Homo sapiens: one gene and its partner. The protein of the gene in region 1 interacts with the protein of each later gene in a biochemical or structural test. Each region holds a gene or a part of one and is shown on either strand. Other genes may lie near its edges.

Evidence for each region.
Region 2: the proteins of TFDP1 (region 1) and E2F6 form a complex in vitro, tested with the Homo sapiens proteins (one study listed by BioGRID).

Annotation. Positions count from the first base shown.
Region 1 is NC_000013.11:113,587,549-113,591,362, forward strand, and holds part of TFDP1 (transcription factor Dp-1), read left to right. Parts: intron 1-3,814. UniProt on the Homo sapiens protein: Can stimulate E2F-dependent transcription.
Region 2 is NC_000002.12:11,456,089-11,459,902, reverse strand, and holds part of E2F6 (transcription factor E2F6), read left to right. Parts: intron 1-1,550; exon of another isoform or gene 1,551-1,610; coding exon of another isoform or gene 1,611-1,622; intron 1,623-2,669; coding exon 2,670-2,724; intron 2,725-3,814. UniProt on the Homo sapiens protein: Inhibitor of E2F-dependent transcription. Binds DNA cooperatively with DP proteins through the E2 recognition site, 5'-TTTC[CG]CGC-3'. Has a preference for the 5'-TTTCCCGC-3' E2F recognition site.

The DNA of each region.
Region 1 (3,814 bases):
ATCTTGGCTCACTGCAACCTCTGTCTCCTGGGTTTAAGCAATCCTCTCGCCTCAGCCTCCCGAGAAGCTAGGATTACAGGCATGTGCCACCATGCCTGGCAAATTTTTTTGTATTTTTAGTAGAGATGGGGTTTCACCATGTTGCCCAGGCTGGGCTCGAGCTCCTGACCTCAACAATCCACCCGCCTTACAGGCGTGAGCCACCGCGCCCGGCCTAGCTAACTCTTTTAAGTAGAGGTGTGACATTTGAGTTTTGAAAAGATGATGTTGGCAGCTTTTGCAGAAGGGAACATCGATAACCAGTTAGGTGTTTTGTTTTTGTTTTTTGAGACGGAGTTTTGCTTGTTGCCCAGGCTAGAGTGCAATGGCGCGACCTCAGCTCACTGTGACCTTGGCCTCCTGGGTTCAAGCAGTTCTTCTCCTCAGCCTCCCAAATAGCTGGGATTACAGGCGCGCCACCACACCCAGCTAATTTTTTGTTAGTAGACACGGGGTTTCACCATGTTGGCCAGGCTTGTCTTGAACTCCTGACCTCAGGGGATCCACCCACCTCGGCCTCCCAAAGTGCTGGGATTACAGGCGTGAGCCGCTGTGCCCAGCCCACCAGTTAGGTTTTTAAAAGCACTGGTACTGCAGTAAAACCACAGGTGTATGTCAAAAGCCTTTATGCTGGGGGAAAGCTGTGCCACTTGGGTTGAAGGAGGCAGGCCTCCAGCTTCTAAGTGCCCTGGGGCCTCTGTAGAGGGCCATGAGGGGCCACAGGATGCAGGGAGCTGGAGCTAGGCCCTGGTAGTCACCATGGAGGAGGAGAAACAAGGACATCCAAGACCTGAGGCTGGAAGGTTCTGGAGAGAACACAAGAGAAAAACAACTCCGGAGCTTCCAACCTCAAGTAGGGCACAGGGAGACAAGCGGGTGGGAAAAGGCCACAAATGGCTCCATGTGAGTGAGGGGCAGAAAGAAGAGGATGAGGTCAGTCCTCTGGGGGTGTCATCTTTGAACAGCAGTTGACAGGCAGTGGGTGTGAAGGTCTATATGGCAAGGAGCTACACACGAGGGAGGAGAGAGGTACTCTGAAAAGTTTGCAGAGTGGGTAGGAAATGACTGTGGAGCAGTGAGGAGAGTGATCAGTGATGGTGTAGTAGTTAGAGAGTGAGTGGTGGTGGACTTGATGGAGAGTGAGTGGTGGTGCTGGAGTGGTGGAGAGTGAGTGGTGATGGTAGATTGGACGGAGAGTGAGTGTGGTAGACTCGGGGACAGTGAGTGGTGATGGTAGATTGGATGGAGAGTGAGTGGTGGTAGGACTGGGGGAGAGAGAGTGGTGATGGTGGTGTAGGTGGAGAGTGAGTGGTGATGGTGGAGTTGGTAGAGTGAGTGTGGTGATGGTGTTGTGGGTGGAGAGTGAGTGATGGTAGTGTTGTGGGTGGACAGTGAGTGGTGATGGTGGTAGACTGGAGGAGAGTGAGTGTGGTGATGGTGTTGTGGGTGGAGAGTGAGTGGCGGTGCTGGAGTGGGTGATGTAGGGTCACAGAAGGAGGAAACAGCCTAGAAGGTGGCTGCCTTTGATGGTCCTTGAGTGGGCCCAGCTGGAGAAATGGTGAGAAGGATTAGGTTTCTGTTGTCTTGCTCAGGGACTTTTTATTTTATTGCACTTATTTGAATTAAAATGGTAAATTCAAATGGAATATTTGTGTTTATACTCTGTTAAGTGGGAGAATGTGGAGAACAGGAGTCAGCTGCCATACGGCCACCTGGCTGGCTCCGGGAACCTGAGGCCTGGTCTTGCCCAGCAGGAGCGCTGGCATAGCATGGATCACTTACAGAAATTTATGATCAAGATTATGGGCTGCTCCTGGCAATATGGGGAGGATTTCCTTGCTGTGGGGACTGTCTGTTTCCATGCCTGGCCCACCCGGTCTGTGATAGCCTCAGGTGCAGTCCTGTCTTAAGTTTGGAGACACCCTGGGAGGTCCGTACAGACTCTTTGAGTTTCTGAACTGTCCTCGAAACATCTCAGGCCCTCCGCCTCAGGGCCTAGGGAGGCTGTCCTCTGGTTCCTGAACAGGGTGGCTCTGACCCGCAGATCTGTGGGCTCCCGTTGCAGGTACCGGTGGTGCTCGGAACCGTCCTCAGATTCAGTCTTGGAAGGTGCTTTGGCACCTCCTTAGAGTCGGACAGACCCTTGTCACGAGTCAGTCCAGCTGCAGGGGCTCAAGTTGTTCTAGAGCTGGGCTGGCAGGGCCCTTGGGTGAGGGAGTGTGGCTTGGCACTGGCATCTCAGCCTGCGGCCAAGTTTCCTGCCTGCCCAGGCAGCATGACCCTTGGTGGGATCAGGCAGAGCTCTGCCTCTCCCCTCCCTACCTCGGAACATCCTGTCGTCACACACGATTGTCCAGTGTCATGAAAGTTTGTAAGTGGGAAGGCAGGCAGATGATGAATTCATCAAACATTACAGGGATGCTTTTGCTGTAAGACTTCGGGATGTAGCCCGTGTGGGGCTGTTTCTGGGGTCCCGTTCGCCTCTCCAAGCTCCTCCTGCCATTGGTAAAGATGCAGGGCATCTGAACTCGCTCTTGGGCTGTGCGGGCACTTGGACCTGGTCAGCTCCCTGTGCAGAGAACGTGGCTGTGGACGTCACTGCCCGGTATTCACGTGCCTTGGTTGTGAAAGCCGTTCTGTGGTGCCTGTTTGTGTCCTGTGAGTTTATGGGGAAATCCTGAAATTGAGAGCTGGGGACCAAGAGAACTGTGTGCGTCCCACCATGGAGGCGTTTGAGTGATGCTGTCACGAGGCTCTGCTAATGCCAAGAGGGGACCAATGAGCTCCTCTAAGGGTCTACCACCAGGTGTCCTTTTACAGACCTGGATGGTGAAGTTCAGGCCTGAAGAGGTGAACCTGATGCAGCAACAAACTGCTGTTTCCTTCAGTGCTTGAAGGAGTGAGTTCTGGGAACAGGATTCAGCGACTCAGGCCTTCTTTTGTCCTCATAAAGAAACAACTTTACATTTGAGGTTAAGAAGGTTGTCAGTTTAGCCCCCTCAGGTTTAAGTGTTGAAGAAATCTATGATGACGTGCTTGTTTTTACAAGAGTCTTTTCATATTTCAGGATTTTTTTTTTCTACATAGGATGAGGTTAGAGAAACTCTGAAGGGATATTAAAAATTAGAAAATTATAGGTTGGGCCGGGCGCAGTGGCTCACGCCTGTAATCCCAGCACTTTGGGAGGCCGAGGCAGGTGGATCACAAGGTCAGGAGATTGAGACCATCCTGGCTAAGAGGGTGAAACCCCTTCTCCACTAAAAATACAAAAAATTAGCCAGGCATGGTGGTGGGCGCCTGTAGTCCCAGCTACTGGGGAGGCTGAGTTAGGAGAATGGCGTGAACTCGGGAGGCGGAGCTTGCAGTGAGCAGAGATCACGCCACTGCACTCCAGCCTGGGCGACAGAGCGAGACTCTGTCTCAAAAAAAAAAAAAAAAAAAAAGAAAAAGAAAATTATAGGTTAATTAAAAGTTTTGCCCCTGCTGGGCACGGTGGCTCATGCCTGTAATCCCGGAGGCCAAGGCGGGTGGATCACCTGAGGTCAGGAGTTCGAGACCAGTCTGGCCAACATGGCAAAACCCTGTCTCTACTAAACATACAGAAATTAGCTGGGCGTGGTGGCGGGCGCCTGTAATCCCAGCTACTCTCGAGGCTGAGAAGGAGAATCGCTTGAACCCGGGAGGCGGAGGTTGCAGTGAGCCGAGATCACGCCATTGCACTCCAGCCTGGGTGACAAGAGCAAGACTTCATCTCAAAAAAAAAAAAAAAGAAAAA
Region 2 (3,814 bases), on another chromosome or scaffold:
TATCATCTTTTTTTTTTTTGAGACGGAGTCTCGCACCGTCATCTGGGCTGGAGTGCAATGGCACGATCTCAGCTCACTGCAACCCCTGCCTCCCGGGTTCAAGCGATTCTCCTGCCTCAGCCTCCCAAGTAGCTTTTATTACAGGTGCCCACCACCACCCCCAGCTAATTTTTTGTATTTTTAGTAGAGACGGGGATTTCACTATGTTGGCCAGGCTGGTCTTGAACTCCTGACCTTGTGATCTCCTCCCCCCACCCCGCCTCCCAAAGTCCTGGGATTACAGGCATGAGCCACCGCGCCTGGACTTATGTTTCTATCTATATGTCTGTATATGATGTCTGCCACTGAGGGGCAATGGTACTGTTGTGATTCCTCCAAGATAGAGTGTTTTTGTATTTGAAGAGGAAAAAAAAACAAATGAATGCTCTTGGAGACTGTTTTCCCACATACATCAGTATAGCCAATATGTAATGGAACTGCATTGATAGCAAAGAGTGGGGAAAACAAAGCCATCTTTTTTCATATTATGCCTAACTGAGGTGTTATTTCTGTACCAACCTGTGATCCACTGTCTAGATGAGATGGGTAGGGAGGTGTGTAGCAGAGAAGACACCCTAGAATGCATAGCTAGCGAGGCAGCCTCTTTGGGAGCCAGTAAGTAGAGTGTGTAAGTCCTGGGCCTGCTACTCTGAATTAAGAACGGGAACCTCTGCAGCAAGGCCCCTCTGAGCTTATATATAAGGATTTAGGATGTTTGTTTATGTGTGTTTCAAATCAATGTGATAAGGATGGATTTTTTTTTTTTCCATTCAAGAATCTTGCTACCGTAGCTGGCCCGTCTCATACTATTAGCAGAGGGGTTAAATGTAAAAATAGCAATGGCAGTTGGTCACACTTGTCTAATGTCTGACTTTGATAGGACTGCTTCAGAGTTTCACTGTTGGATACCATGTTTGCAAGTCACCATTGTCAGCACTGTTTGAGAGAGCTGGCCAGACCTAGTCCCTACCCCCAAGGCCAGCATTCCCAGCTCCAGTGTTGCATGCCCTAGCAGGTCTACGTGTTCAATTCTAACAACTAAATTAATTTTACAGTGGGATTCTGTCTCAATGGGAGTATTCCATATTGGGGTGATTTGTTAATAGATGCTATCATCTTGTCATAGATGATAAGGAAATCATTGTGCCGAGGATATTGTTAACACCAGTATAAACAAAGAGCTTCTTAACTGCTCACCTTGCCTTCAGGCTTCCTCATTTCCCAGTCCTTTTGCCATATTGCTGCCATACTTATATTTCTAAACCATTTACTTAATTATGTCCTAGTCTGGTTCAGAAACCTTTGGTGATTCTCTACTGGTTATGACATAAAGTCCAAACTCTTTAGCATTAGTTTTATGTGGTGCCAGCATGCCCTCCCAGCTTCAAAGTCAAGTCACTTACACACTGGCCACTTCAGTGGGTTCCCAGAAACATGCCATGCCATATACATCTTCACACCTTTGTTCATTTCCGGTACCACAATCCTGTCTTTTTTCTTCTCTCCCCACAGTTGTTTATTCAGGCAAATCTGGCTTGCTGGGCTAGGCTCAGCTGAGGGCTGCCTTCGCCATGAATCCTTCTGTGAGTTCCCTGTCTGGGTGTATCCCTAGTACTGCTGTTGATTCTCTTCTTAGAGTACCTATGAATTCACTTGCCCCAGTTTTGCTTTATGGCCAGTTTTTTCTTAGATAAGAGCTAAACCTGATGACAGCCTGTCTGGAGGCACATTAACATTGATGTTACTAGGAGTTTCTGTTCATAGGCTTTCATTTTAAGGTTTGGTTTCATTTTATTTATTTTTTACAGAAAAACAGTTTCTAAATGTTACTACCAGTTTTATGCAAACTTTCAGAGCCTCTAAATAGCTGGTAAAATGGTGAGCATTGATAATGGAGCTTCTACTAATTTCCTGGTTGTTTCAGGAATTTAAAAGAAACTTTTTATCTAACGCAAAAGTTTCTAGTTACCCACAGCATGCATTGTTTTCCATTGTTAGAAATGCTGCTGTTTTTACATTAATTATAATGGGAATGCATAGCTGCCTATGAAAGCTTGTGAGCAAATTTTGGGGAACCACGTGTACTTAATAATAGCAAGGAGTGAGCATGTGTTGGTTGAGATAGATCTTCTATCTCTACTAAGCTTTCCCAAGTCAGGGACAGTGTTGTAATGATCGTACCTGATGTATTCAGTATATTTTGTGTGTGTGTGCATGTTTTTTTGTTTTGTTTTGTTTTTTGAGACGGAGTCTTGCTGTGTTGCCCAGGCTGGAGTGCAGTGGCATGATCTTGGCTCACTGCAACCTCCACCTCCTAGATTCAAGCGATTCTCTTGCCACAGCCTCCCAAGTAGCTGGGACTACAGGTGCCTGCCACCACGCCCGGCTAATTTTTGTATTTTTAGTCGAGATGGGGTTTCACCATGTTGGCCAGGCTGGTCTCGAACTCCTCACCTCAGTGATGCACCTGCCTCGGCCTCCCAAAGTGCTGGGATTACAGGCGTGAGCCTCTGCCCAGCCAGTAATTATCATATTCATATTCCCAGACCTTTATACTATTGAGTAAAATGCTATTTGTTTGCATTGTTGTTTTAAAATCACTAAGTTAAATTTTTTATCTTTTTTTTCAGCCATCAAAAATAAGGATTAATTTAGAAGATAATGTACAATATGTGTCCATGAGAAGTAAGTTGATTCCTGAATAGGTTTTAGGTTTTGTTAGTTTGAACTTCTTATGATTAAAATGATTTGTTTAAGTGTATGAGTTGATGAGAAACTGAAATACAATTTGTTATGTGTACACTGAAATGTAAAGTTGCAAGTTTTAGTAACAACTCCTGAGGTTATGGGTTGAATCATGTGCACAAATGCCAGTTTATTCTCCATAGAACAGTCTGTATTTAAGGCTATTTTCTCAGAATTCCTCCTGGGAGAGAAATGTACTCTTTCCTTCTTGTCCCTTATCTTAGGTTAATGTTTAGGGTATCTGTTAGAGGCGATAGGATGTAAATGGCTCTAGTTCCCTCTTCTGGAAGTTTCCATGATAGACCGCCCCACCTCAGCTTCCTAATCTCAGTGGATACATAGTGCATCGATAAGTCAGTGTGAATCTTAGAAATACTCACCCTTAGTTTTGCCTCAGTGCCTGCCCCAGTCTCACCCATAGTTGGTCACTGAGTTTGGTCAGCTTCACCTTTGATGTGTTTCTTGCATCTGTCCCATACCACCAATTTATAATAATATCTAACATTTATTGAGCTCATACAGTGCCTGGCACTGCATTAAGCTCTCTGCATGGATTGTCACAATGACCTTTCAAAATATAGGTATGGATTAGAATTCTTACTTTATAAAGGCCCAGAGAGGCTGAGGTGAGTTGCTCAGAGTCAGGGTTGAATCTCTTACCTCTCTGACGCAAGAGCCCAGAGTCTTTACCACAACGTTGAATTGCTTCTTCTCGTTCAGGGTCTAACTTCCTCTGTAGCTGAAGTTGCTGGGTCTCCTTCTTAGAAGGCAGTCAGCTTCCAGGCTTTCCAACCTGGATGCTGGAAAAATCCAGGGGGATTTGTCTAATACAGAAATTGGATTATGATATCATTCAACCTAAGTTCTTCAGTGACGCTCTTTTACATGTAGAGAAAACCCTGATTCCTTGTATATTTGATTTTAAGTGTTTGCATTAAATTCATAAGCCACTTCATATTAAAAGAAACAAGGCAGTAGAGAATGGGTAGACAGAGCAGACCAGGCCCTTGTAGGCTGTTTCTTGCTTAAT